Linked DNA regions of Homo sapiens. The protein of the gene in region 1 purifies or fractionates together with the protein of each later gene. This does not show direct contact. Each region holds a gene or a part of one and is shown in the gene's direction. Other genes may lie near its edges.

What was found.
Region 2: the proteins of SLC18A2 (region 1) and HSD17B7 purify together in Homo sapiens (co-immunoprecipitation; 2 studies listed by BioGRID and IntAct, with this or other methods). This does not show direct contact.
Region 3: the proteins of SLC18A2 (region 1) and CLEC16A purify together in Homo sapiens (affinity purification with mass spectrometry; 2 studies listed by BioGRID and IntAct, with this or other methods). This does not show direct contact.
Region 4: the proteins of SLC18A2 (region 1) and RAB32 purify together in Homo sapiens (co-immunoprecipitation; 2 studies listed by BioGRID and IntAct, with this or other methods). This does not show direct contact.

Annotation. Positions count from the first base shown.
Region 1 is NC_000010.11:117,236,846-117,244,121, forward strand, and holds the start of SLC18A2 (synaptic vesicular amine transporter), read left to right. Parts: upstream 1-4,268; 5' UTR 4,269-4,375; intron 4,376-4,815; exon of another isoform or gene 4,816-4,833; 5' UTR 4,834-4,848; coding exon 4,849-4,969; intron 4,970-5,039; exon of another isoform or gene 5,040-5,152; intron 5,153-7,125; coding exon 7,126-7,276. UniProt on the Homo sapiens protein: Electrogenic antiporter that exchanges one cationic monoamine with two intravesicular protons across the membrane of secretory and synaptic vesicles.
Region 2 is NC_000001.11:162,785,703-162,793,719, forward strand, and holds the start of HSD17B7 (3-keto-steroid reductase/17-beta-hydroxysteroid dehydrogenase 7), read left to right. Parts: upstream 1-4,999; 5' UTR 5,000-5,098; coding exon 5,099-5,133; intron 5,134-6,956; coding exon 6,957-7,160; intron 7,161-8,017. UniProt on the Homo sapiens protein: Bifunctional enzyme involved in steroid-hormone metabolism and cholesterol biosynthesis. Catalyzes the NADP(H)-dependent reduction of estrogens and androgens and regulates the biological potency of these steroids.
Region 3 is NC_000016.10:10,968,542-10,975,564, forward strand, and holds part of CLEC16A (protein CLEC16A), read left to right. Parts: intron 1-619; coding exon 620-768; intron 769-2,583; coding exon 2,584-2,689; intron 2,690-4,012; coding exon 4,013-4,018; intron 4,019-4,396; coding exon 4,397-4,520; intron 4,521-7,023. UniProt on the Homo sapiens protein: Regulator of mitophagy through the upstream regulation of the RNF41/NRDP1-PRKN pathway. Mitophagy is a selective form of autophagy necessary for mitochondrial quality control.
Region 4 is NC_000006.12:146,546,815-146,553,837, forward strand, and holds part of RAB32 (ras-related protein Rab-32), read left to right. Parts: intron 1-2,649; coding exon 2,650-2,927; intron 2,928-7,023. UniProt on the Homo sapiens protein: The small GTPases Rab are key regulators of intracellular membrane trafficking, from the formation of transport vesicles to their fusion with membranes.

The DNA of each region.
Region 1 (7,276 bases):
TAACTAGTACGCCAGGTTGGGCTAGGCTAGGAACCACTGAGTCTCTTGGGATGGTTTTGTTCGTTTCTGCTCTGACCCATTATTTGAATGTCACAGCTTAATGCCCAGGAGGTGAGGGTACTGTCCTTGTTTCCAAGTTCTCTGGTGGGGGAGCACCTGAGGATTTTTCCCCCAGGAAACACCTACACCTTCCCTGTATCCAGCAGTTTCCATTTTCCAGTAACAGAGAACACCTAATGTCAGGCACTAGGCAAGGCCCATCCCACTTTCTCTCTATAACTATGCTGGAGGGAGGGACTGTTATCCTGCTGGAGAGACAGATAAGAAACAGGTATGTAAAGGTCAAGTAGAATGACCAAGGTCATGTAACTTGTAAGAGACCCCACTAGGATGCTGTCTACAGCTTAAACTGTTAGTGCATCTCCAGTAATGTCTATTTCAAATAACTGCTATGTCCCAGGTGGCTACTTCCTAAATAGAATTTAGAAATTATCATTCTCAATTATTGAAATGTAATGAAAAAGTAAACTCGGGTACCACCTTTGTACCTCCTCAGTCCCCAGTGTCTAAAAAAGGTGCAAGTGAGTGGAGGGAGAGGAGGGAGAGTTACTTTCCTCTAGAGAGGAAGTAACTCTAGAGGAAGTAATGTTTCTTTGAGGGTTACTCAAAGGAGGAAGTGAAGTAAAAAGGAGAAGTAACACCTTCATGAGGGTTTATAAGGGAGGGGCCTGTCTGATGCTGGACAGCATGCTTTCCTCCATGAGGAAATAACTAGAAAAGAAGAGGAAGCGGAAAGAAAATGTGCAAAGGCCCTGGGGCAGAGAAATGCTGAGAGGAACCACTGTGGCCAGAGGGGGAAGGCGAGGGCTAAGATGTTTGAGAAGTGGCCGTGGAGGCTCTTCAGGCTGGAATGGCAGGACACTGAGTGTATATGAAGATGTCCCGAGCCGTTTGAGACCCTCAATTTTCATGTCTTCCATTCTAAAGCTTATCTGGCTGATATGGACCTGGGTGGGGACATGCACATGCTCCTGCATGGCCTCCCCTCTCCACAGTCTCCCATCTTCCCCTGGGCAAAGAAAGGCTCCCTTCCTATCTAACCTGAGTCTGACCCCCTTCCTGTATACAGTGTCCTGAGGCACAAAAACATCCTCGGCACCAAACAGAGACACTTTTGGTGTCTCTTTCAGCAAGACTCCAAAAATCCCCTCTCTATCCATCCCTTAAGTAATGCACTTTTAAGACAATTTTCCTTTTTATGTTTAATAATTATTTATCAGAATACATATTTGTGTATGATGTCTTGATCACTTAAATACCATTAATCATTGTTATAATCACATAATCCTAAAGAGAATTTTAGAGCCTTATTAATTAATCATTAATTAATTTTTGAGGCAGGGTCTTGCTCTGTTGCCCAGGCTAGAGTGCAGTGGTGTGATCATGGCTCACTGCAGCCTTGACTTCCTGGGCTCAAGTGATCCTCCCACCCCAGCCTTCCAAGTAACTGGGACCCCACGTGTGTACCACGATGCTCAACTAAATTTTAAACTTTTTTGTAGAGGGTCTCACTATCTTGCCCAGGCTGGTCTCAAACTCCTGGCCTCAAGAGATCCTCCCACCTCAGCCTACCAAAATGCTGGGATTACAGGCATGAGTCACTGTGCCTAAACTTTTTTTTATACTTTCAACTTTTGTTTTGGATTCAGGGGGTACATGTGCAGGGTTGTTACACTGGTATATTGAGTGATGTTGAGGTGTGGGGTATGACTGATCCTGTCCCCCTGGTAGTGAGCATAGTACCCAAGAGTTAGTTTTTCAACCTTTTCCCCCCTCCCTCCCTTTCCCCTTTAGTAGTCCCCACCAGGGTCTGTTGTTGCCATCTTTATGTCCACGTGTAGAAAATTTTAAAAAGCTAATGCATATTCACATATTTATTGTGGTTCACATAATAGATAGGTGATGAATACAGAATTTAAACAATAAAAGCATTAGGGTAGGATACAATTCTGTTGGAAAACGGAATGGAAACATACTTAAAAGGGGTAAAGAACACAATGTAAATATTTTGACTGTTAAAGGGATACTTGTTTATATTCTTAAGTATAACATGGCAGTTTTGTATTCTTATACAAATTCCTTTGGGTATATTTAAAAGAGAGAGATAATAATTTTATACATAAAGGTCAATAAATACAATATACCCTATTTAAATATATGATTAAAAAACTCATTTTAGATGCCAACTTGAAAATGTGTAAGGCAAACATATTGTTAAACATTTTTTAGGGGGTTTCAACAAAAAGTCTGTTATAGGCCATAGTGCTCTAGGGGTGGTGACAGTGATCCGGAGGCGGGAACGCCGGGCTGGCATTGTCCCTGGAGCCATCTACATCCAGCTGGCTGGGCTGGAGTTTGGTGTGGCTTCCAGTGTTCACTGCTATGATGCTGCTATCAGGTCAGAATGTCAGCAGGGATTTGTCTAGGCTTTACTGTCTCCCCAGCATTAACCATAGTGCCTGGCACGTAGTAAGAGCTCAACACATATTCAGCGCATGAATGAGGGGCCGGCACTTACGGAGCTCTCACTTTGTGCCAGGCACTGTGCTAAGAGCTGCCTATGCATTCCCCTGGAATTCTCACAACCACGCTGCAGTAGGTCCAGTGAGTATCCCCATTCCAGAGATGGCGAAACTAAGCCACAAAGAGGATACATAACCAGCCCAAGGCCACCAGTCAAGGAAGTAGCAGACTGGGACCTGGGCATCCTGGCAGGCACCCTTTACCATAATGCCTCTCTGTCCCCATGTGGTCCCTGGGGTAGAGTCTGCATCCTTGGGTTCTGAAACTCCAGAGCAAGCACTCTGGGGCACTCCCTGAGTGATACCCTCCTGCCATCTTAAACGGCTCTCTGCCATCTGCTTCCTCCTCCTAAGTGGTTTTCCTTCTGTCCTCCCTGTTTAATGTTTAAGTTGTGCACATCCTGTGACATCCTGGAGACCCATGTTCCTGACCTACTTACCTATTCAACCATCTCTTCTCACACATGGGGTAGCAATGAGAAGCACAGGGGGTCTCTGCAAGGGAGTAGGGAGGTGGAGAGAGCGGGGGCAGCCACACATCACACTGCTGTTCTCAGTGGCCTCCTGCTGTCAACAAGCTAACATTAATAAAACAAGCCCACTCTTCTGCTAAGAGACTGTGACAGGGTAACATTTATTCTAGGTAGCTTTTCAAGAAAACAGCTCTTGCTCCCACGGTCCCCTCGGAGGGCCTGCAGAGCTCCAGCGATGTCAGAGGGCATCTGTTTGTTTCTCCTTTGCTTATAAAAGGGACCTGGAAATCAAAGGCAGGCTCTTAGCCCTTAGCAGTGAGGATGACAGCTCTGCACCAGCCACACGCAGGCCCCTGGCTCTAGGAACCACCTCTCACCCAGACGCCCAGGCACAGCATGGTGGGGAGAGAGTACAGGACACAGGGCCTAGGCCTGCTGCCCCGCCCACAGCCCGCCCCCTAGCCCTTTCTCTGAGGCCAGGTGTACTCACCTAGCCTCCAGGGTCCCCTGCTCAGGTGGCCCCAGAGGCCCAAACCCACTGCTCCCACTTTCTGAGACCTGGGACCCTCACCTCCCCAACTCCCACCATAGGGCGACACTGAAAAGTGTCCCCTTCCCCCCCCCGTTTCCAAGTCACCAGCTTGAGGATGCCCAAGGCTCAAAGGCTCCTCCGAGTGGCACCCCGCATCGGGCTGCAGAGGTCGGAGAGGGGAGGGGATGGTGGGTGCAAAGGGTGGCTTCTTCAGGAAAGGGAAGCCTGTCCCTGGCTCCCAGCACCTGTCACCCCTGGCGATCTCACCCCGCGGCCATCATTCCCGTCCTCACGGCCCATTTCAGGGACACTGAGGCTCAAAGAGCCACGTGATTTATTCAAAGCAGCTCGAGCCACCACTTGGAGCCACAAGAAAGCCCTGGTCCGTGCCTCCTCGCCTTGGTCCCTGGCCCTTCACTCTTCGTCCAGGCTCTCTGACCTCTTTCCCTCTGCGCCCCTGCCTCTTCCCCAGGCCTGGGTCCCCAAGGCACTCGGCCACGCGCTGGGTCCGGGGAAGAGGCGCGGCCGCGGCCGAGGCGGGGACAGGGAGGCGGCAGCCCCTCCTGCGCAGCGACGGCGCGGGCGGGCGGAGGCCGGGGCGCCCCAGCCCCCCGCCCCCGCTCCCTCCGGCCGTGACGTCAGAGCCGGACGGGGTAAACTGAGCGGCGGCGGCGGGGCGCTGGGGCGGAGACTGCGACCCGGAGCCGCCCGGACTGACGGAGCCCACTGCGGTGCGGGCGTTGGCGCGGGCACGGAGGACCCGGGCAGGCATCGCAAGCGACCCCGAGGTAACACGGCCCCGGTTCCCTGCTCGCAGGGCGCGGTGCCGGAGGGGAGCGGGCCCGGGGGAGGCAGGGAGGCAGGGAGGCCCCCAGAGCTACGCGGGCGGGGCTGCGGGGACCCCGGGGCAGCCGGGGCGCAGGGCGCAGGGCGCAAGGTGCACGGGGCCGAGCGTGCAGTTTGGGAGGTGGCACAGTTGGGGGCGGCGGGGATCAGGGCAGCGTCCTGGGGGTTCTAGGTTGGGTCTCCAGATTGGGTCCCCGACGGCGCTCGCGGGCGCTCTTTCCAGGGAGCGCGGGCTCTCGTGGGGACGCGCTCGAGGCAGGTGAGCCGAGGCTGGGGCGCCCGGGGGTGTCCCCGGATGCCGGTGCGCGCGGCTCCCTGACCCGCCCTTCCGCGGCCTGGGGGACGGGAGAATGGGGGGTCCACGGCCGCCTTGGGTCCTCACCGCGCACCGCGCCCGCAGCGGAGCCCCGGAGCCATGGCCCTGAGCGAGCTGGCGCTGGTCCGCTGGCTGCAGGAGAGCCGCCGCTCGCGGAAGCTCATCCTGTTCATCGTGTTCCTGGCGCTGCTGCTGGACAACATGCTGCTCACTGTCGTGGGTACGTGCGGACAGGGCACCCCTGCCCCGGCACCCCAGCCCCAGCGCCCCTTCCCCGGCACTCCACTTACCCCTGCGCGGTCCCGGAGCTCCGCCAAGGCCCGGGAAAGTTGGAGAACTCGCTTTGCAAAAAAGACATCCCCTCCAGGCTGCCGCGCCGGGGCTAGGAGGAGCCGCGTTGTGTGGCTTCGCTTTCCTGATGCTCGGGTCAAAAACTGTGACATCCGATAAGACCCAGAACTTATGTTTCCCCCTGATAATTTCCCGCATCCTCTTGCCTGCTTTCACTGCGATGAAAAAGATTTCTGTTCCAAAAGAGAAATTCCTAAAGTTCAAAATTACGTGTTAGAATAATTATTGGGCTACTCGAAAAGGCAGGTTAGTAATTTGGTGTAGTACCTAAAAGAGCAAGTTTCGATCCCTTACTCCAAAAACAAGACATTTAGATATACTGTATTAGTGAATGACTTGAGATGGAAATATTTCAGGAACCATTGCAAGAACAATTTGAACAATCTTGGTTCTATTATTTTTCCTATAGTGGAATTTTGAAAAATTAAATAATCGAAATCCAGGTCCCTTAATTAGGCCCATTAACAGAGAAGTATTTGGCATGCATTTCCTTAAAAAAAAAAATCCCAGTTTTTAATGAATGAAAAAAAAATCACGACTCATTTAGACTGTAAGTGGTGGGAGCTGTTTCCTTTCTCTCCATTTGCAGGTTTTCTCACAGCAGTTTTCAGAGCATCTGATAGGTTTCATCTCGAGGAGTTATCAGAGCCGTGGAGCTCATCCCTGTTCAGTACCAACGGCATTAGTTCTGCTTCGGCTCGAATGCTCCATTGGACACATGTGCTCACAGCTTCGATTATATGTTTCACAATTTAATTTGTATTTTTTGTTGTTGCTTTTTATTTTGGTTTTTGTTTGTTTTTTTGAAATGGAGTCTCACTCTGTTGCCCAGGCTGGAGGGCAGTGGCACAGTCTTGGCTCACTGCAACCTCCACCTCCCGGGTTCAAGTGATTCTCCTGCATTAGCCTCCCGAGTAGCTGGGTTACCGGCATGCCCCACCAAAGCTGGCTAATTTTTGTATTTTTATTAGAGACAGGATTTTGCCATGTTGGCCAGGCTGGTCTTGAACTCCTGACCTCAGGTGATCTACCCGCCTCGACCTCCCAAAATGCTGGGATTACAGGCCTGAGCCACCGTGCCTGGCCTGTTTCAGTTTTGCTTTTTCCTTGTGAAAGCCTTAGGAATTCTTAAATCTTACAAGTTGTAGGAAAAATTACAGATTCCCACTCATAATAGAAGGATGAAGTGGGCCTGTTGCAGAATTTCCAAGTTATTACTTCCTGCAGGTTAATTTTTTTCTAAGACACATAATGAAGTGTAGTTTTCTGTTTCCTTGATTCATTCATTTGAAAGTCTTTTGAGCCTCTCTTTCTTAGAAGCACTGGTTGACTCCAGGTCAGCACTCTCTTAACGTCAGGCCACATTTTGCTTTTCTGAAATATTCCTTGAAGGAACAATGTGGAAGAAACCCACAAATGACAGAATCTCTGGGACCAGTCAGTTCAGCACAGCAGCTGCCTTTTGAGAGGAGACAGTTCTCAGGGCCGTTGGGGGCATGGTTCTTTCTAGTGAGCTAAGTAAAGTGAACTTGCTCCAATGTCGTTATAGACATATGGCACAGGGCTCCTGTTTTGGGGTAGACCTGTCACCCTCTGGACCTCTTCTGGCATTTGACACAACCATAGTTTTGTTGTTGTTATTGTTGTTTTGTTTGTTTGAGACAGAGTCTCACTCTGTCACCCAGGCTGGAGTGCAGTGGTGCAATCTTTGCTCACTGCAACTTCCACCTCCCAGGTTCAAGCGATCCTCCTTTCTCAGCCTCCAAAGGAGCTGGGATTACAGGTGGGTGCCACCACGCCCAGCTAATTTTTGTATTTTTAGTAGAGAGAGGGTTTCTCCATGTTGGCCAGCCTGGTCTCGAACTCCTGACCTCAGGTGATCCACCTGCCTCAGCTTCCCAAAGTCCTGGAATTACAGGTGTGAGCCACTGCTCCCTGCCGACACAACCATAGTTTTTTGCTGGCTTTTTTCCTGGAGAGGGTTTCAGTGTGATCACCACCTTGCCATTCTGCTCTTATCCCCAGTCCCCATCATCCCAAGTTATCTGTACAGCATTAAGCATGAGAAGAATGCTACAGAAATCCAGACGGCCAGGCCAGTGCACACTGCCTCCATCTCAGACAGCTTCCAGAGCATCTTCTCCTATTATGATAACTCGACTATGGTCACCGGGAA
Region 2 (8,017 bases), on another chromosome or scaffold:
GTAGGGAGAATTGTTTTGCTTGTAACATGGAGAGTTTATTTTCAAGTGAGGAAAGAGAAAAAAATTACTCAGACTTGTTCCTGGTGAAGTGCATTCTCTGTTTGTATACTTTTTGATGGAGAAATTGATCTATAGAACTGCTTAATTTTTTGAGGCATTTAGACAGCAATGAAAGGTAGTTCTCCACAGGACACCGAATCAAAAGGAGAGACCAGACTCTGGCCTCATACCCAGCCTATTTGAAACAAGCTATCTAGTTTCTCCTGCAGACACCTTGTCAACAACATGCAACAGTGTCAGGTGCCTTGCAGGAAAATAATCTGAGTCCCAAGCTAGCCTGTGCTCATCCACAATCACAATGAACATGTCAAGGAAGAATTTGCAGAGACTCAAGGGAAGCACAATGGGATAAGGTAATCACTTTCAGTGAAAAACTGTTTTCTTGAAAACAGGCTTGGACACAATTGAAAGCTGGCTTCCTGCAAACACACCAAGAGTCTGTAATCTAGCCTATCCATTATATGTCCTTTATTATTCATGATATCCTATTCTTCTACCTTGTTGCCTGGTAACTTTTTCTGAGGACTGAGTTTCTGCAGCGATGTGGTGCACTCTTCCTGTGATGAGGAAACATCTGGGCCCCCTTCTGCAGGCTTTGGAAGATGATGTGTCTTGTCAAGGGGTAAAGGGCAAATGGATTTAATTTCTGCTTAAAACTATCATAGACGTTCCAAATAGAATATGTAAAATTTCTCTGTATTAGAAAAAGAAACGTGATACCAATTGTATATTTTCTTTTCTTTATTTATTCTCTGTAAGTCTGTCAGATGATAAATTGTAAATAACAATGATTAAAGAGTCATGCTACTGATGGATCTCCCTTTCTGTATAAACAGTGCCAGTTCTGGGCTTTGTAACCTTTGCTCTTTATAGTCTTTCATTCCTGGGGAAGTGATGGGGCATGGGCCCAGAGCTGGGGTGTATGTGGTATGGACACCTGTTTGTGGGGCTTTCCAGCAAAGGATTATTTAAATAGACCTCTAACATATGAGTTGACTGTTTATTGGGAAGAAAGCATCTTGGTCTCTGACATATCCAAACATACGAGACACTGGGATTTTACGTCCTCACATTAATTAGTCCAGTTCTGGGGAATCCAGTCTAGAATTAACTGGTGATCCCTTATCGTTATGGTTACAGACTTGTCTTGTTTGATACACAGAAATCCTTTTTAAATCCAAATATAGTCTGTCTCAGACTACCTGCACATGCACAAACCAAAAAAAACTATGAAAACCAGAATTTAGACTCAGTCATTATACTAGAGATTAGAATGAAACGACCCCAAACAACCCATTTCTTACCTGGTCTCTGAGAATAAGTTTATACTTTTAGTTTTCTGAGAATATTTCTCAGAATATGTGAGTTTTCTGAGCACATTTTTCAGCATGGGGTATGGTAGATAAATCACAGGGCCAAGGTTTGGCAGGGATAGATGGGATCATTGTGTACCCTATTGTTCTTCTGATTTCCAGGAGAACAGAATGAGCCCATGCAAAACATAAACTTATGATGATTAAAAAAAACACACCTATCCATTCACTCATCAATAAAAACATATTATGATGGTTATCAAGCTGTGTCCTATGAGTGATAAAATATTTGTAAAATATAAAATTAAATGGCATCTATTTTGAACTCTATTCTAGTCTCTCTGAGCACCTCTAGCAGTTCAGCCCATCTTTCAAAAGTCATAACACCTTGAAAGCAGCAACTTTAGTGCAGAAAAAGGAAGAAGAGAGCAGTTTCATCACTTGGCTTGAATGAAAATCTTGGGGAAAGGAGAGACAGACGGTCTTGCTCTGAAGCTGTCTGGACTTCACTTAATTCAGTCTGTCTTAGGCTGGCGGTCATCCCGAGACTGCGGTAATGCTGAGCCTCCACAGCCCAGGCCCTCTCCCTTCTTTATAGAAATGATTTTTTTATGGGACAGCCACACAACCAGGTCTTCTTCTTATTCCTTATCACCTCTGAGCTCTAGAACATTTTAAAATGAGTCTTTGGGTCTAGACTCTCACAATTAGGCTTAATTTTACTCCATGACTTTCAGAAAATGTTGTTAAATTGTGGTCTCTTTAGAACAGTTGAAAGTGGGATAAGCGTAGGAGCTGAGTTCCACCCCCATGATAAAGAAATTTTATTGGCCGGGCGCGGTGGCTCATGCCGGTAATCCCAACACTTTGGGAGGCCGAGGCAGGCAGATCACTTGAGCTCAGGAGTTCAAGACCAGCCTGGCCAACACGATGAAACCCCACCTCTACTAAAAAAAAAAAAAAAATATATATATATATATATATATACACATACATATATACACACACAAAAATTAGCTGAGTGTGGTGGTGTGTGCCTGTAGTCCCAGCTACTCGGGAGGCTGAGGCAGGAGAATTGCTTGAACCCGGGAGGCGGAGGTTACAGTGAGCCGAGATTGCGCCACTGCACTGCAGCCTGCTGACAGAGTGAGACTCTGTCTAAAAAAAAAAAAAAAAAAAAAAAATTTTATTTAGGAATCTAATGTTCTAATAACCAGATTTGTTCTTTCAATCTAATTTTATTGATATAGGATAAATGATTACTAAGTAAGTTGGTATCATTAATCAAAACCTCTAGAATCAAAAGCCAATATAAATTATCTCAGTGTTTTATGGATCATTGCTGTTCATAAATAATTAAAACACTGAAAGAGGCCATTAAATAAAGTATGTTCAGTAGCGTTTGATGTATGATACACAGTTTTATTCTGCATGAGCTGGGGCTAGTGATGGTCCCATTACCAGTCTACTACAAATACAGAAACCTAGAGTAAGCATTAGAAACCTTTATAGCAGTTTTGTCACTGGAAGGAGGGCCTTGAGTGTGAGTCGTCCAGGTTTTTGGCCATTTGGAACGAAAAGTTGGACAAAATGCACAAAGTAACAAAGGAATGAAGCTGCGAAAGCAAAAGCAGGGATTTATTAAACTGAGAAAGCACTCCACAGGGTGGGAGTGGGCCTGAGCAAGTGGCTCAAGGGCCCAGTTACAAAGTTTTCTGGGTTTTAAGTAGTTCTTTTGAGGTCCCTATGGGCTACCCCTTATCTGGATGAAGGATTTGGTTTATGGCTAAGTAAAGGCTGAGGTGAATTTGTGCCCTATGCAGATGATGGCATGGCCCATGCTTAGTGCTTGGCCCACAGCCAATCCAAGGCACTTTCCCTTTCCATCTGAGACATGGTGGAAGTGTGGCAGGCCAGGTCTCACTAACAACTGTTTCAGTACTAAGTGGTTAAATATTAAAAGCCAGTGCCCTTATACAAAGGCTGGGATGTAACAAAAGCCCATCAAGAATTTTGCCTAGGCCTTTCCTGGGCCTCTTAAAGCATACAAAATAAAGAAAGAATTCTTAACCGGACCCCTTTAGGATTAAACAAGTTTTATTGTGGTCTGAAGAAACTCCCCAGGCCTCCACAAACAAGTTTATTGGGGGGTCTAAGAGAACTCCTCAAACCTCCACCACTTAGCAGGAGAGAATACAAGGGCAATCACCCCAGCACCTGGACCCATTTAGGTTAAGTAAATTTACTGAGGCTCCAGAGGAAGGTTTTCAGGACTCAGACCTTAGTTACAGATTAAAAGAAGTTAATCACTTATGTCTTTAGATAAATGCACACTTACACATAGACAGTTCGCTTAGAAGGCATATAAGCTCTGAAAAACTGTAATTTTGAGTTGGTCTGGTGATAATTTCCAGGCCTTCTCCCTGCAACCGGTTACAGAAATAAAAACTCTCTTCCTCCCCAGCTCATCTGCATCTCGTTATTGGGCCTTGAAAAATAGCAGCCCAACCCTCAGTTTGGTCTGAGAACAGAAGGTTGTAGGGAGAGTAGCCTTTGATCCTTTGCTACTGGGGAGTGGGGAGATGGGGTTTTTCCTTCTGGTTTAGCTTTAGGAAGTTGGTGTTAATTGACCCTAGGCTCTCGGCCCCCAGACCCAGGTGTTTTCCTTTTGATCCAGCTTTGGGAAGCCAGCACCAATTGGTCTCAGATTCCCTACTTCCAGCCCTTGCTGTTTTTCCTTGATTGAGCTTTAGGAAGTCAGCACGAAGTGGCCTTAAGTACCCTGCCTCCAAACCCTATTCTGCCTCATTTTGGCAGAGTACTTTTATATGTCTTGGATCTAATAATAAAATATCGGGGCTTGTGTTTTGTATGCCTTTTGCTTTTCTTTTTCTAGCACTTTATTTTTTTGTATTTTCTAAAAGCACCCATCTGGGATGGCTTGGAGACAAAAACAGGTCCTTTAGCACAGTTTGAGATGCACTGATACAGAAGGTTACAGCACATTCTCAGTACTTCGGAGAATGAAGTTCTGAGATTCTGATTCCACGCCACATTCCAAGTTTTGAATACTGGTAATTTACGTCTGATTCTACATAAAGTTCTTAATAAAATCAGTGCTCATTTTCTCAAATAAGCTTCTTTAGAGGAGGAGGTCTGGGATCAAAAGTTGGGCTGTGAAGTGGCACAATGCCTGGATCTGTACATCCAAAAAGGAGTGGAAAATTAGATGATAATCGCCCAACTTTGGCTCCTAGACCCAAACCTTTTCTCTAAAATGGGCACTGGTGCAAATACCGTGAGGCCTTCCTGCAAAGAAGTGCCAATCTCAGGCGCCAGGGCACAGACCCAGTGCGTGTCACAGATCCTGTCCTGAGTGCTAGGCCGGGTGACGCCCCCACCAGGATTAAAGATCAGGCGCCCGCTGAGCCCTAGGAAGCAGTGACAGACACCTGCGCCTAGGCGGAGCGAGAAGAGCCTGGAATGGCTCCGGGCTTTGCGTCACGCAGCTCCGCCCCTCGGCCTATCTCACCCGACGCCGTCTCCGAGGGCAGGGAACGGTTGGCGGACTGAGATTGGAGGGATCAGCTCAGACTCGATGACGCAACGGGAGGCGGGGCGTGGCCGTACTCTGATTGGTGACGGGTGAGGCGGCCCGAAATCGTAGGACTTCCGAAAGCAGCGGCGGTGTTTGCTTCACTGCTTGGAAGTGTGAGTGCGCGAAGATGCGAAAGGTGGTTTTGATCACCGGGGCTAGCAGGTGAGGCCTCCTTTGGGTTGGCAGAGGCGGCAGCGGATCAGGGGTCCGAGAGAGCAGGGGTCTGCGACCCTCCACGAACGGACCCCGGAAGCGCCCGCCCCTGGCTTTGCCTAGGTTCCCCGGAGTCTGCAGCAGGTGTGGGGCATGTCGGCCTCTTGAGGTGCTCAGTAACTGGTGCTTTGTATTAAACATGACAGTGAAAAGGAAAACTAGAGCATCAGTAAGTGATGAGTGTCGCAGTGATGATCCTGAGGTTATCAAGGCAATGGGGTACTCAGGCGGGCTCCGCCCCTTTTCCATCTTTGCCTACTGTTCGTATTTATCGTCAGTGCCCAATATTTTGCTCCTGACCACGTGATCATGTCTTATACTCCAGGTGTTTTGTCTGTACAAGCCTTTTGCCTACAAATTTGAACACCCATGAACATTAGGACGGTGGAGAGAAAACAATCCCGTTTCATTTAGCTCAGTGCTAGAGAGCTAACATACTCTTCAGAAACCCAGAGAAAATTAATCTTTTCCTATGAAGGCATGGTTGGGGTGCAGAATAACCAGCTCATAATAATTCCAGGGTTGCTCGTTTAGTCTCTCAGCCTCTTCTGTTGCTTGTTTTACCTGTCATTTGCACTTCTGTGAAAAATGTGTGGAGGATGAAGCCAATCAAACCATTTTTCTACTAGTTGCATTTGGCATTTTTAAATGATTAAGACAGAGGACATGTTAAACATTTAAGATTGATCCACTTTCAATTATTTAACCACATGCGTATTAACTAAGCCAGCTTGGTAGGTGTCTGCATTTGGCAACTTTTTAGCATACCCTCTCAAGTGACTTTAACCGTTGATTGGTGCTTCTTATGTGGAAGGTACTGAGTAAGTCAGAATTGATTTTGTCTGTTTCTTTTACATATATTGTGACATGTGCAATTGTATATTAAATGCCTACTGTTCTCATGTGAGGACAAATAAATATTTTTGATGCTTTGTTGTTGGTGCTAATAGATTACTGATGGTTCCAGGCTCTTTTTGGGTTTTAACTATTAACATATTTGCCTGGAATCAGCTTAAGTCTTGAAAGAGAACTTATTACCCAGCTTTTCATTGCTATCAGCCAGGCTGGTCTGACTGCTGTCACCACTCCTATGCGGTTTTACAATGCTGGTTTTGAAGTTCTTTGTTTCCAAGTGGTGTACTCATCTAATATTTAGTGTATTCCTACCTTCTACTTAATCATGTTGAGTTCTTTCTTTTTCTATTATTTAATCATAGTTGTTGAGAGGGATTTGTACATCCTGCCATGTTACTGATGCCTCATCCTGAAAGATTCATCTGTTCCTTTATCAGAGATTTCTGGTGCTCCTTATGGTGTTTACGATACCAGTAGGTGGTAGAGCCCTTGCCCCTGAGGAGCCTAGACAGCAAAGTCAAAATGCACATAGGAAACAGCTAATAAGATGCTCTTTTGAGCCCTTACTGGTGATATATTAAATCATTTTCATGAGTGACATAATAGGTACAAAATGAAAACCACTGGCAGGATAAAGCCCAGTAGTAGAAAAACTAAAGAACAATTCTTGTTTTCAGTCCAGTTATTTTGTCATTGAAGTTTTTCAAAATGAGAAAAACACAAACTAGGCTGTGTCTCAAGCAAGTGACTATTGGAGTGTAGGATTCCTCCCTTCTTAAATAATTGTTGAGTCTTTTCTTTCTATCTGGGCTTCTCATTGGAGGTCAACTTGACACAGTTTTCTGAACCAGAGAGAAATGCCTGTACCTGATGCCATCCCAGATAACCCACATCTTGTGTCTGAATTGTCCTCCCAGTGGCATTGGCCTGGCCCTCTGCAAGCGGCTGCTGGCGGAAGATGATGAGCTTCATCTGTGTTTGGCGTGCAGGAACATGAGCAAGGCAGAAGCTGTCTGTGCTGCTCTGCTGGCCTCTCACCCCACTGCTGAGGTCACCATTGTCCAGGTGGATGTCAGCAACCTGCAGTCGGTCTTCCGGGCCTCCAAGGAACTTAAGCAAAGGTATATCTCTTGCTGATGGATTTTTTTTCTCATGTGATTGTGCAGCATAACACTTAATAAAATAAGAGAGGAAAGAAAAACCTGAAAAGAAACAGGTGCGGTGTAAGCAGTTATGTTGAGGAAGTCTGTATAGGGTGACCCATTGTGTCTCAGTACCACGTTTTCTTTCTTTTTTTTTTTTTTTTTAAAGAGATGGAGTCTTGCTCTGTTGCCCAGGCTGGAGTGCAATGGCGTGATCTCGGCTCACTTCAACCTCCACCTCCTGGGTTCCAAGTGATTCTCCTGCCTCCACCTCCTGAGTAGCTGGGATTACAGACATGCGCCACCATGCCTGGTTAATTTTTGTATTTTTAGTAGAGACGGGGTTTTACCATGTTGGTCAGGCTGGTTTCGAACCCCTGACCTCGTGATCCACCCGCCTCGGCCTCCCAAAGTGCTGGGATTACAGGCGTGAGCCATTGCGCCTGGCCAGTACCACATTTTCAGTCTCAATCATGATCATAATTATTTCATGGAGACTAATTTATGAGTACATCCTGATGTGTGATCAGTTGGTACTGGGATTACAGGCGTGAGCCATTGCGCCCAGCCAGTACCACATTTTCAGTCTCAGTCATGATCATAATTATTTCATGGAGACTAAGTTATGAGTACATCCTGATATGTGATCGATCAGTTGGTGCTGGGATTACAGGTGTGAACCATTGCACTTGGCCAGTACCACATTTTCAATCTCAATCATGATCATAATTATTTCATGGAGACTAATTTGTAAGTACATCCTGATGTGTGATCAGTTGCACTGCCTTACGTTAAGGTAACTCCTTTGACATTTGAATTCATTTTTTACATCTTTC
Region 3 (7,023 bases), on another chromosome or scaffold:
TTCTCTGTGACTGTCTCTGTGCACGGGTAAGTTAACATCTCCGAGATGTTTTTGCTCATCTGCAAAATGGGAAGAATGAGCAGGATCATGTGATGGTTAATGGTCATGTAAAGCACTCAGCCTAGTGGCCGGCATGTAGTAGGGATTCAGCAGGAAGGGACCTTTATGCAATCATGTTGCTATATAAGGAGGAAAAAAACCCTACTGTGGCCTTCAGAGTTGATGATGTGATTTGTGATGGCAGAAGGGGGCAGCTTTTTACCCTCATTCATGGGTGGTTTGTGAAAATGCCCACACACCAGCTAATCTCCCCCTACTCCCAGCTCTTTGTTGCACTTTGCCATCAATGAAAAGAAAATGTTGGAGTGTCTTTTTTTTATTTGGTGTGGGAGGGCGGGGAAGGGCTGTTCTCTGGTGATGCCTTTGAACTTCCTGGTGACTGTACATTGAAGATGATCTCTTTGCTGGTTAAAAGTTAAGCTCTTCCCAGTTAGTGTGTTTAATCCCAGCAACCCAGAGGCTTACCTGATTCAAGTACATTAACGTGGTCATCTGCTTGTTACCTGGCTTATCTTTCCTCCAGCATGAGTTAACCTGTTTTGTTTTTTTCTCCCTCTAGATTATTTGCTCTCAAATAACTACGTAAATTCTATCATCGTTCATAAATTTGACTTTTCTGATGAGGAGATTATGGCCTATTATATATCGTTCCTGAAAACACTTTCGTTAAAACTCAACAACCACACTGTCCATTTCTTTTATAATGAGGTAAGTAATTGCCAGAGGGGCACGTGTGGGTGTAAAGCCACACGTGGCTTTTTTTTTTTTTTTTTACGGCAGCGCCTTATATCTGGATGGTCTTGTGTCTGTTTACAAAGCTCTTATATGCTTGTTATGATTTTCATGGCAACACTTTTGACTTTGGCATGTTTAAAAAATTTTTTTAATTAAATAAGTTACCTTTCTATTAAAAAAATGTAATTCTTTGTAGAGACAGGGTCTTACTATGTTTCCCAGGTTGGCCTTGAACTTCCGGGGCACAAGCGATCCTCCTACCTTGGCCTCCCAAAGTGTTAGGATTACAGGCATGAGCCACAGCACCTGGCCAGCCTTTCCATTGTTAATGTAAAATTCAGTTTGTTCTGAGAGCTTTATACTTGGTAGAGAGGAGACATGCCCAGATGTTGTCTTGGGGAAGTGTTGCCCTGTGGGAAAAACAGGAACTCCAGTCAGGGCTGGTTTTGTCACTTCCCTGCTGTGTCACCTTAAGGAAGTCCCAGTCCCTTTCTGAACCTCAGTTTCCTCATCTGAGAAATGGGGATAAGAATATACATCTTGTAGGGTTATTAGGGGTTAAATTAAATGAGATGATGTCTTCAAAGTGCCAGTATGTACATAGCTCCCTAAAAGCATAGACGTTGCTATTGTTGATAAGATAATGTCCCTGACATTCTTTGGGAGAATTATTAAAATGAACAACTTAAATAAATAAATTGCTCCTGTCCTCACACCTAAAAGGGGTTTGAACAATAGGGTCAATGTATCACCCACACCAAAAGGTCCAGGCACTGGTCGTGCTGGGGCTGGTTCATCCTGTGGTTCAACAGTATCAGCGAGGACCCAGGCTTTCCCATCTTGCTGCTCTGCTGACTATACAGCTGGCATCCATCCTCAGGTTCAACCCCTCATGGTCACAGGTTGGCTGCCACTGCCAAAATGCCTGATGAGATCACTTCCCTTCTTGTGTCCCTTTTTAACTTCCAAAGAAAACTTTCTCAGAAGGTTCTCACCAGCCTTCCCCTCATGTTTCCCTGCATCCCACTGAGTACTTCTTAGGTGTCAGGTGCTGGGATAAGCACAAGACCAGAAATGATCTCATTTAATCTGGAAACCATAAAGTAGATGTTATTATCCCCATGTTATAGATGTAGAAACAGAGGTTTAGAAATACTGCATTGCACAGGTTAGAAGTGGTAGAATGGGTAATGAACCCAGGTCTGACATTATCTGGACTCATTTTCTTTTTAATTATAATTTTCAAAGTAGAGATGAGGTCTCGTCACATTGCCCAGGCTGGTCTCAAAACTCCTGACCTCAAGCAATCCCCCCTCCTTGGCCTCCCAAAGTGCTGGGATTCTGGGCATGAGCCACCACTCCCAGCCAATCAATCAGTGATTACTACTACTACCACTACTACTGCTCTTTTTTCTTTTTTCTTGTTTTGAGACAGGGTCTTGCTCTGTTGCCCAGCCTGGCGTGCAGTGGCACGATCACATCTCACTGCAGCCTCCAACTCCTGGGCTCAAGCCAACCTCCCACCTCAGCCTCTCCCAAGTAGCTGGTACTATGGGTGTGCACCACCACACGGACTTGGACTCTTCTGTTTCTTCCATGGCTTTGCCTTCCTGTCCCTTTCTACATGCCCCATTGGGAATGAACCACTGACTTACGGTTCACATTGGCAACATTTTTTTTTTTTTTTTTGTCTTTTTCTGAAGTCTCTGATGGAATTCAGAGAGTTGGGGTGGGGCCAGGCCTGGCTTATGGGCTTATAATTTGTTTTCGTTATTTCTTTTGTTTTAGCACACCAATGACTTTGCCCTGTACACAGAAGCCATCAAGTTTTTCAACCACCCTGAAAGCATGGTTAGAATTGCTGTAAGAACCATAACTTTGAATGTCTATAAAGGTAAGTGTCCTCATGGGCTTGTGTCTCGGCTGATTTCTGACTTGGCAGCAAGCACTCACTCCCGTGTGTGTGCGTACAGTTCTCCGATTGTCACGAGGGAGCACATTGATGATGAGCCGTGGCAGCTTCTCTCATGAAAAACTTGGAATCCCCTAGCATTTAGCTGGCCGCTCATGGAAATCCTTGCCTTCTCCAGGCATGTCGAAGTCTTGCTCATGCTGCTACATAGAAGTAGGATGTCCTGAGAGGCACGTGTGGGATTCAGAGTGGCTATGTTTTAGAATTTGAGAAAGCAAAGTTGTCTTTTTAATGTGTCATTTAAATTTTTGTGTCTTGGCTTGTGAAATATACTTTAATACAGCTAAGGGGTAATTTGACTTTTAAGTAATATATAAAAGCATGTCACATTGTGAACAGCAGGGGGCAATGTTGTATTCCCAACAGGCTGCAAAGCCCAGCACTAACAATTCCTCCTTTCCCTCAAGATGTTCTTAATGCCCAAAACATTGCCCCAGGGAAAAAGCCATTCCCCCACTCTCCGCTGCACTGACACAAAGGCTGCCTGGCCACAAGTTTCCTGAACTGGAATTGCCCTTCCAAGGCGATGCTTGGAAGTTCTCTGCCTAATTCCTGGGTTATTTTCCCCGGAGTCACCACAGTGGAGATGGGACTATTTTCTCAGGGATGAAAGGGCTTTGACTTTCATGAGCCAAAATGTTATTACTCCCTAATGAGGGTGGGGGCTTCTCAGGGACTCACTCCAGCCTAGCACTGGGCTTACATTAAATTTAAGAACCTTTCTAAGAGCCCAACTGGACCCACCCAGGGGTCGCAAACTGAGGACCTGTGGGCCATATCCAGCCATCAGACATGTTTTAACTGGCTTAGTTTTTGAAAAAATGTGTAGTTGCCAGTATTTAAAAATTGGGAGATCTTCCATGATAATCTGGATTTGCACCTTGAAGATGTAGATTTGGCTAGTCAAGGCCCACAGTCCTGCAGTTGGGGGGGTCAGCTGGCACAGAAGCAGCTGCCCCTTTGGGGTCAAGGCCCGTGCTCCCAGGTCACACGCTGGACCTCTGGCAACTAGCCAACGTGGCAGGCTTGTAAGATTGTGACCCTGGTCCAAGCCACAGTTGGTTCTGCTGCCTCCTGCTCTGTTTTCTCCTGTCTCCTTCTAACCTTATCTCTCTGTGCAGATGCCTCCCACCCTAGTCTCTCTCCCTCTGAGCAGCTCTCTCACCTTCCCAGGTCCTAACCCTGTTAACTGTTGTCTGTTTTTTGCTTTTCCTTCAATGACGATTCCTGTGTTCCTTATTCCAGTGTCATGTAAGTTATTAACCTCTGGTTTTCTGCTTTCTTAATCTACCCTTATATGTAAATACCTTGCTTGAGAATGGTGTAATTCTCAGTGTAGTCTAGCTCAGTCTGCTACTGATAAGTAGGCTCTCCCATGCACCATTAATGTTTAGCCCAACTAATTTATTTTTAAGTATAAAATATCATAAGAACTGCCTTGATGACTATAGTTTTATGAATAAGATAAACATTTTTAAGTATTTCCAGGAAAGACAGACAATTTCAGATTATAGCAGAGGGCTTTTTCATTGTGGTTTTTGGGTTTTGCTTTGTTTTTGTTTTTTTTTTAATCTTCCCCAAGTTATTTTTGGTAGCTTGACTTTTTTTTTCTTCTGTGAATTTTCTCAGTGGATAACCAGGCCATGCTGCACTACATCCGAGATAAAACTGCTGTTCCTTACTTCTCCAATTTGGTCTGGTTCATTGGGAGCCATGTGATCGAACTCGATGACTGCGTGCAGACTGATGAGGAGTAAGTGACACCCCCAGGGCCACTCAGTAGATAGACAGGGTGGTTAGGGGAGAATTCTGTTTTCATCAAGGAAAAATAAACACAAGAACCGCACTTCCCTACCTCTGTGTAGGCAGAGCATGGACTTCCGTACTGTAAAAGGTCCTGCTCACCTATTTGTAATAATGAAATGCTGGAAACAACTCAGACGCCTCCCAGAGCAGGCGGGGTAAATCAATTCAGTACAGCCATAGATGGGGCTGCTACGCAGCTGGTGAGAAGGTCAAGGGGCTCTGTCAGCTGATGAATGCATTAACAAAATGTAGTCTGTCTGTACGATGGAATAGTGTTTGGCGATAAAAAGGAATGAAGTGCTGACACTTGGTGTGGCGTAGATGAACCTCAAAAGCATTATGCCTAGTGAAATGCCCAGAATAGGTGAATCTATAGGGGCAGAAAGTAGATTCGTGGTTTCCTAGGGCTAGGATGTTGTGTGGGGACATAGGAAGCAACTGCTAATGAGTATAGGGCTTTTTTTTCTTTTTTGAGACAGAGTATTGCTCTGTCACCCAGGCTGGAGAGCAGTGGGGTGATCATGGCTCACTGCAGCCTTGACCTCCTAGGTTTAAGCATTCCTCCTGCCTCAGCCTCCCAGGTAGCTAAGACCACCAGGCCTGTGCCACCATGCCCAGCTAATTTTTTTGATTTTTAGTAGAGATGGGGTTTCGTCATGTTGCCCAGGCCAATCTTGCATTCCTGGGCTCAAGCAATCCTCCTGTCTCGGCCTCCCAAAGTGCTAGGATTACAGGTATGAGCCATACATCCGGCCAAGTAAGGGGCTGCTTGCTTTTTTTTTTTTTTTTTTTTTTTTTTTTTTGAGACAGAGTCTTGCTCTGTCTCCCAGGCTGGAGTGCAGTGGTGCAATCTTGGCTCACTGCACCTCTGCCTCCTGGATTCAAGTGATTCTTCTGCCTCAGCCTCTGGAGTAGCTGGGATTACAGGCATGCACCACCACGCCTGGCTAATTTTTGTATTTTTAGTAGAGACAGGGTTTCACCGTGTTGGCTAGGCTAGTCTTGAACTCCTGACCTCATGATCCACCCACCTGGGCCTCCCAGAAGTGCTAGGATTACAGGTGTGAGCCACTGTACCCAGCCATAAGGTGCTTTTTTTTGCAGGGGGGATAACAGTGTTCTAAAATTGACTGTGATCATGGTCAGGCAACTATGTGACTCTACCAAAAACCATTACATTGTGTACTTTAAATAATTGAATGTTATGGAATGTGAATTATACTTCAATAAATCTCTTTTAAAAAACAGATTAGGATGGTGGTTTTGTCCTCAAAGGGATGATTAGAAGTTCCAGAGCAGGATTTCTTTCCCTTGGCTCTATTGACCTCTTGAACTGGGCACCATTGTTGGGGGGGCTGTCCTGTGCGTTGTAGGATTTTTAGCAACATCGCCAGCCTCTCTACCTGCTAGATGCCAGTAGCACCCCTCCCCAGTCGTACCAACCAAAAATGTCCCCAGACATTGCCAAATGTCCCCTTTAAGGCAAATTCACCCTCACTTGAGAACCACTGCTCCAGGGTGACAGCTTTGCCCAGGCCTAGTGAGAGGTGCACCTAGATGGGGTCAGGATGCTAAAGGGACCAGGGCAGACCCATTGGAGCAATTGGGAAAGCTAGAAGCCTTATGGATTTAAACAGTCATGGATGCGAGACATAATGAGACACTTAACTATAGAAAGAACAAAGTTATACAAGCAAGGAAATGAAATCATAGTCCTCTATTTGGCTCCACAGGGAATGTTATGACATCAACCCCAATTACTGATAACTACTTGTGGGGAAGGGGCAGAGAGAATGGAAGAGTTCTGTCATAACAGGAGGTCAATAGATAATACCTAAAATGGCTCAATTGCAAAATAGGAGTCCATGCAGATTTTCTAGAAATATGGGAGGAACTATCTGCAGAAACAAGTAACTGCCTCTGGACAGTGAGGAGAAGTAGAGGAGGGCTGGGTGCGGTGGCTCACACCTGTAATCCCAGCACTTTGGGAGGCTGAGGCGGGCAGATCACTTGAGGCCAGGAGTTGAAGACCAGCCTGGCCCCATCTCTACTAAAAATACAAAAATTAGCCAGACATGGTAGTGCACCCCTGTAATCCCAGCTACCAGGGAGGTCAAGGCAAGAGAATTGCTTGAACCTAGGAGGTGGAGGTTGCAGTGAGCTGAGATCGCACCACTGCACTCCAGCCTGGGTGACAGAGCAAGACACTGTCTCAAAGAAAAGAAAAAAACAGTGGAGGAGGCGAGTCTGGGCCAGGAGCTGCTCTTTTTCATTATCAGCTTATCAATGCTATTTGAGTTTTAAACCTAGCTGCATATATTACTTTGATATTTTTTAAACCAAAGTATTAAAAAGTGAGGCACTTTAAATATACCATTAGAGAAAATGTTCCAAAGTATCTTATTAAGTGGGAGAAAAGTGCAAAACATTGTGCATAAATGTTCTAGGTC
Region 4 (7,023 bases), on another chromosome or scaffold:
GTGAGAGGGCGAGGTAGTGAAGAAATTATGACGAATCTCTATGCTTGAAAGCTGTGGCAAGTATGATAGGCTAGAATTATCAAATGTTTTCTACACATGTAGCTAAGCAGATTCAGCTGAACTCTTCAGGTTAAGAACCACTGTGATCCTCAGATACACAAATCTGTTCTTACGGCATTGAAGGAATCTGGCTTTAAAATACAGATGCAGTTTAGTGCAGTTTTTGTGTTAGACAATTGCCATCTCTTAACTCACACGTACTTTAGGACTGCTGCTCAAAACATAACTGAAATATACTAAAATCTTGAAGTCTTTGATAACACTTTACAGAGATCTTAATAAATGCATACTCAAGATATAGCAAGAGATGTCTCTGATCTTCCTTTTAATGCTCAGTGTAGGTAAAGTAGTATTTGGTTTACTATTATATGCTTATTGCTTATTAGTCACTATAGCATTTTTCAGGCAAATTGAAAGACTGGTCTAGGTTAAATCTTAAAAAAACAAGTTTGTCCATTTAGGTCTAGTATACTTTAGCCTTCATGTATTGACTGAGTGATTTGCTTTTTAGGATCAACATTTTTTAATAAAAATCTGAATGAGTAACTCTCCTTTGGGCCAAAGGACAAATTGGGAACAGTCTGCTCTGAAGTTCATATAAATAATATTTACCCAAGCATAAAATGTGTGCTTGGAAGATATAAACTATATAATTTATGCCTAAACTTATTTTACATTGTTTTGATTCCCATCCAAAATAGAATGTGGATCCTGATTGCCTTGCTGCATCTTATACTTTGTCGATTAGTATACCTAGTAATATCCCTTTGTCTTTTTTTTCACAACTCTCCTATCATCTTTCATGAGCACGAGTAAAAGGAAATACTTGAAATTTACAGATGATTCACAAAAAAAAAAAAAAAAAAGCAACAGTCACTAAAGTTTAACAACTCTTTGTTAACTTCTAGGTTTCTAACTGTTCTTTTACTCATTTGTCACCCCACTCTCTTTTCTAAATTAAAGATATAGTCCAAAGGAATAGTTTATTACCATGTAATTATCTTGAAATCTTACTTTTTCAATTTCCTAATTTAAGACTGTCATATCTTGTTGCTTAGTCTTTTCATATTCAATAATTAAAATATATAAAAATGGAAGTGGTTGGTAATGTGTGCACTGCATTTGAAATTGGAGTCTGAATCATTTCAATGCATATAGTCTTTCTGCAGAATAGCGATTTTGAACAGTTGGCATATCATGTAAGTTTTTATAAATGTCAGCATTATGAGCCAATGAACTATATAATGGTCAGATTTACATCACAATAAAATATGAGCATAATAGTAGGGTTTCATATGTGACCATTTGTTACAGTAAAATTTAGACCTTTGGACTATTACAGTACAGCTTCAGTTAAACCATATGAGGAGTCATCACAAAACAAACCTTAAATTTATGCATTCACGTTTGACCATTGTTTTATTCTTCTTCCATTATTCCCTAAAACAATATATAAAATTATATTGCATTGTAGAGTTTGGAGAAGGAAGAATTTTATATTTTGGGGTATCTTTGCATCTGTGCAGAGAAAATGTGTCAATAAAATGTAGATAAAGCCTGTTGCTCATGTGTTTCAAGAAGAAAGTGTCTTTATCATAGAACAGAGTGATACATCTTAGATGTGCATTGATTGCCAATCATTTTTCCTTCACACTGTAGTCAGTAACTAAGTCAAGGCAACTGCAAGATAGTTCAGAAAGGCTAGCATCCCACTTCTATAGGTGTGTGGGAGTCAGAAGACCTGGATTCTAGTCCTGTCTTCTTTAGTCAGTGCCACTATAATCCTGGCCAAGCATCCATTTTCCTGTTGTTACATCTGTCAGATGAAAAGAAGGGTCTTTCCTATGCCAAAGATTAGTACAATAGCAGATAGTAAGAGAACGCTTTGCAAAGTCCTATATAATGTACAAAGCAGATTTTTCCCAAAGTGTTTGACATAAATTATTTTAAAAGTACAATGACATTTGAAGAACCCTGGAATTGATTCTTCTTGTAACAACACAACCAGTTGTGCCTTTTGTTCTGAAACAGATTTTCATGTATCTACTACTTACAGGGGTGAAATCTTGCATATTGAGTCAGAAGTGGGTATGGGCTAGAGATATGAAGGAGAGATGAGTTGAGAACATGAACTACTTTATCTCATGTCCAGCCCTAATCTATTTGACTAGCATGTTACCCACTGCACTTATCTCCTTCCTGCAGGCTTCATTTCTTCTATTCTTGTCTCTTCTTCCTCTACTTCCAGCTTTATGTTTTCCTTTAGTGCCTCTCTTCTCTTAGACTAAGGGGAGACGAGTCGGAATAAATGACAGACTTTGTAGCTTTAAATATTGTCATATTGGTTTTTATGGAGAATATGTTGTACAGAACATAAAACTAATTCATTATGTACTTAAACCAAATTATCAGACACATCTGCTCTATGGGTCATGGTCTGTATGGATAGCCTTAATCACACCAGGTTATATTGCTGTGGAATGGAAGACATTTGTTCATAGTGTTGCTCTTGGGGTAAAAGGGGTTATACCTAAATGTAGACTCTGTCTGAATTACAAGTTTTTAATTTTTTCTTATATTTATGTCTAGGGCAGGAGCGATTTGGCAACATGACCCGAGTATACTACAAGGAAGCTGTTGGTGCTTTTGTAGTCTTTGATATATCAAGAAGTTCCACATTTGAGGCAGTCTTAAAATGGAAAAGTGATCTGGATAGTAAAGTTCATCTTCCAAATGGCAGCCCTATCCCTGCTGTCCTCTTGGCTAACAAATGTGACCAGAACAAGGACAGTAGCCAGAGTCCTTCCCAGGTGGACCAATTCTGCAAAGAACATGGCTTTGCCGGATGGTTTGAAACCTCTGCAAAGGTGAGATCTGCTTTGCTTATGCATCTTTTGCTTTCTAGCTCATAATTCTGAGCTGTAAATGTAAAGTATTTAGATATATTTATGTGAGTGGTGTTTGAAAGTCTGGAAAATGAGAAGTGTAGCATGGATGTGTTATAGCTTCTTTCAGTCCACAACAGGACTGCTTTCCAAATTGGCTAATGGCTAATAGAAGGGCAGATTTTCCATCAAAACAAAAAGAATTATTTAGGGCAAAAAGCAAATGACATTTTCTGTGAGTTTGAGTTTTTAACTGAGGTACTTCTCATGCAACTAGAGTGGTTGGGGGTATTGTCAAGCACGAGAATTTTTGGTTTTTACAAAAGGCTAAGTGAATAGGAAGATGCCTCTGGTGAAGATGTGTGTCACATGCAGGACCATGTGAAAAGATCAGAGAGGAGATTTATTCAGATGATGTTTGAAGAGTTTTAGGTTAACTGTGTACGAAAGATTTGAAACAGCCAGAAAGTATCAACATTTGTGGTATGCTTCATAAACAGTAGAGTGAGAATTTTTTCTTTTGTCTATTATGGAAAGCTGAATAAAATATTTTCTGAAGGAAAAAATAAAACACTCAGTTGACTTTCAAAAATCTTAACAGTCTAGTGACCAGGCACGGTGGCTCATGCCTGTAATCCTAGCAGTCTGGGAGGCCGAGGCAGATGGATCGGGCAGATCGCTTGAACTGGGAGTTCGAGACCAGCCTGGGCAACGTGGCGAAACCCTGTCTCTGCCAAAAATACACAAAGTAGCTGAGCATGGTGGTGCATGCCTGTGGTCCTAGCTTCTCGGGAGGCTAAGGCAGGAGGATCACTTGAGTCTGGGAGGCAGAGGTTGCAGTGAGCCGAGATCATGCCACTGCACTCCAGCCTGGGTGACAAAGTGAGACCCCATCTCAAAAAAAAAAAAATCTTAATAGTCTAGATATAGAAAAAAGGTGAAAATTATACATATATAAAATGTTTGGGGGGGGGGTTACGTGCATTGGAACTTTCACATAAGGGGGTTAGTGACAATCAGATTTATGTAAGAATGATGAAATGTTTGAAAAATTCTGTGATGACAGATAAACATTATACCATAAATTTGTTGAAATCATAACACAGTTCTAGCTTTTAGTTTATGTTCTGTGGATTTCTTGTGTGTGTTTACGGGTGTTTTTATATATGTATGTATGTATGATTGTTCCTCCAAATCACCCACCTCATTCTGGATATTTACTAATCAGATTAGGTTTAGCTCTACTAGAAACTTACCCTTAGAGTGAAAAACTACTTGATGCCAATGATGATCTGCGGGATAAAAGCGAAGCAATGAGAGACTGCACAAAAGGAGACCGCTCCAAAAATATTGCGCAATGATGGAGTCACTGGGAAAAAAAAGACTGTCTACTGCAGGCAGAAATGTACACTCCTAAGCTAGAGGCTAATTGTTTGAATAAATATAGCATCTTAAAATTTCCTTTCATAAATAAAACATAGTGATAGAAGAAAGATGAAGCCCAGGAGTGCTATGTGAGCACTTAATCTGACACGAAGGAGAAAATCACAGAAAGAAAGCCTTCTTATAGAGAAGTCACCTCATTCTCCCAAGAAGCTAGGACCACAGGCATGTGCCACCATGCCCAGCTACTTTTTGCATTTTTAGTAGAGACAGAATTTTGCCGTGTTGCCCAGGCTGGACTCAAACTCCTGAGCTGGAGTGATCTGCCTGCCTCAGCCTCCCAAAGCACTAGGATTACAGGCGTGTTCTTCTGGACACTCATGCCCTCTGTCTGCTCTGTATGCCTATTGGGTGATTTGCTCTACTTGCCAGCTTTGCTGTAAAAAGACGAAAAAAAAAAAAGGGGCAGTAAGTATAACTGCTTATGCGAGTGTGCATTTTGGTGGAGGAGTTTTATAAATGATAGACAAAATTCCCCTTTAGGCTCTATTTAATCTTTCAGATAGTAAATCCAGATTTGCCCCCAGATGTAAGACGTCATGTGACTAGTAGCTTGTGACTGTGTAAGTCATCGGTTTCACTTTATGTATGGATAGGATTACACGCAGAGGTGAAAGGTGAAACGCTGGTTAAGAGTACAAGTTTCAAGTTTGCTCTGTGCTTCCATACAAATATAATAGAAGCAGCTTCTGTAGAATTTCCTTAGCAGTAAACCAGACGTGTTCCAAGAGAATAACAGTAATAAAAAAATTTAGGTTAAAAATCTTAGAGTTAAGGCTTAAAGTACTGCCTAAATGTCACTAAGGTACACTTCTGAGCTGGCCTGCAGCTAACTTCAGATCTGACTTTTGCTTGAATTGCAGTCATCCGAATTTCACTAGGAACATAGGCAAAAGATAACTTTTGCAAATAAATTTCATCATTTCACCTTTATGGCAAATAATGGATTTCTAATATGAAACTTTAATAATATTAACATATGGGAATTACATTAACATGTGACTAGTTACACTATCATTGGAATTTTAACCAACTGCTTCCAAATACAGTTAGAGAATTTTATAATTATTTGATATAATGGGGATAGCTGGGACTGAATGTCACTTGGACATTCAAAAGATCAATACTTGAATTAAAGTTAACACTTATCTTGGGAGTGGAGGTAAAAAATAAATAAAAAGCTTGTTTCAGTGCTATGAAAGATGCCTGTAAATAGCACAGCTGTTTTAGGTTTCTTGTTGTCTGAGAAAGGGTTTACAAATAAGGAAAAAGGCTACAATGAACCTCATAGCATTGGATTGGATTAGACATTAATATGAGCTTCAGGTTTCATATGTGTGTGTGTGTAAGAGTATATGCATATATATATGTGAGTGTGTATAGATATATGTATGTACACACACATATGTGTAAACAGATAAAGAAGTTGATACAGATGCATGTGTGTATACATACGTTTATTTACTAGCCATACCTGCTGAGAGGGCTTAAAAGGAATGACACCACAGAACCAATTAACTTACCTCGTGCTCAAAATTCGGTTTTTAAATATCATTCTCCAGTAAAAAGAATGGGAATCTCTAGAGAAATGCCTGATTTTAGGACGGGTGGAACAAGTCAAGTAAAGATGTGCCTGAGATATTTTGTTGTGCAAGAAACTAAGGAAATGCTTACAAAATGATGGGGACATGTGACAAAGATACAGGATACTGCCATACAAGCTCCAAACATGTAAGACAATTTGAGCAACAAACTAAATAATTACTGTAATGGGTTCAACTTATAGAGTAAACTAATAATCCATGATAAAAATGAACAAATGAATAAAGAAATGGGGGAGAAGGGAACCTCTTTCTTTTTTTATTTTTATTTTTTTATTATACTTTTAAGTTTTAGGGTACATGTGCACAACGTGCAGGTTAGTCACGTATGTATACATGTGTGGAACCTCTTTCTAACAGTAGAATTCCAGCTAATAAATGTAGAAGGAATGGCAGAAATAAAAAAGTCACCATTAAACACCACAGTGATGATTGTTGTAGGGAGGAATTAATTGATGATAACATTAGTGGGGAAAAGTGCGGTGAGAAACAGGATATTTACATATTTGCACTAAGTACAAAGGGAAAAATAATAACTTTTCTGTGGAGAAACATGGCAAAAACAACTTGAAGCAGTGTGCTTCCTGATAAACTGTGCAGGGTACATCACTTGTGTTTTATTTCTGCCAAAAATACATACGTTGAATTTAATGATAAGGAAACATCGAACATCACAGATGGAGGTATATTCACCGGCCAGTGCTCTCTGAGAGTGTCAAGGTCATGAAAAGCAAGGAGAGTGAGGAACTGTTCGAGAGTAAAAGAGACCAGGGCGACAACAGTGAAATATAGCTTATGATCCTGGATCTGAAATAGGGCATTGAGATAATTGATGCAATTTGAGTAAGCTTTTTAGGCTAGCACTGATACAACACTATTATGTAATTTCCTGATTTTGATAGTTGTATTCTGGTTATCTAAGATGTTAACATTTGAGAAATATGTGTGAATGGTAGGAATGTTTACTTTTTTTGCAATGTTTTTGTAAATCCAAAATTATTTAAAAATGAACAGTTAAATATATTTAAAAATAA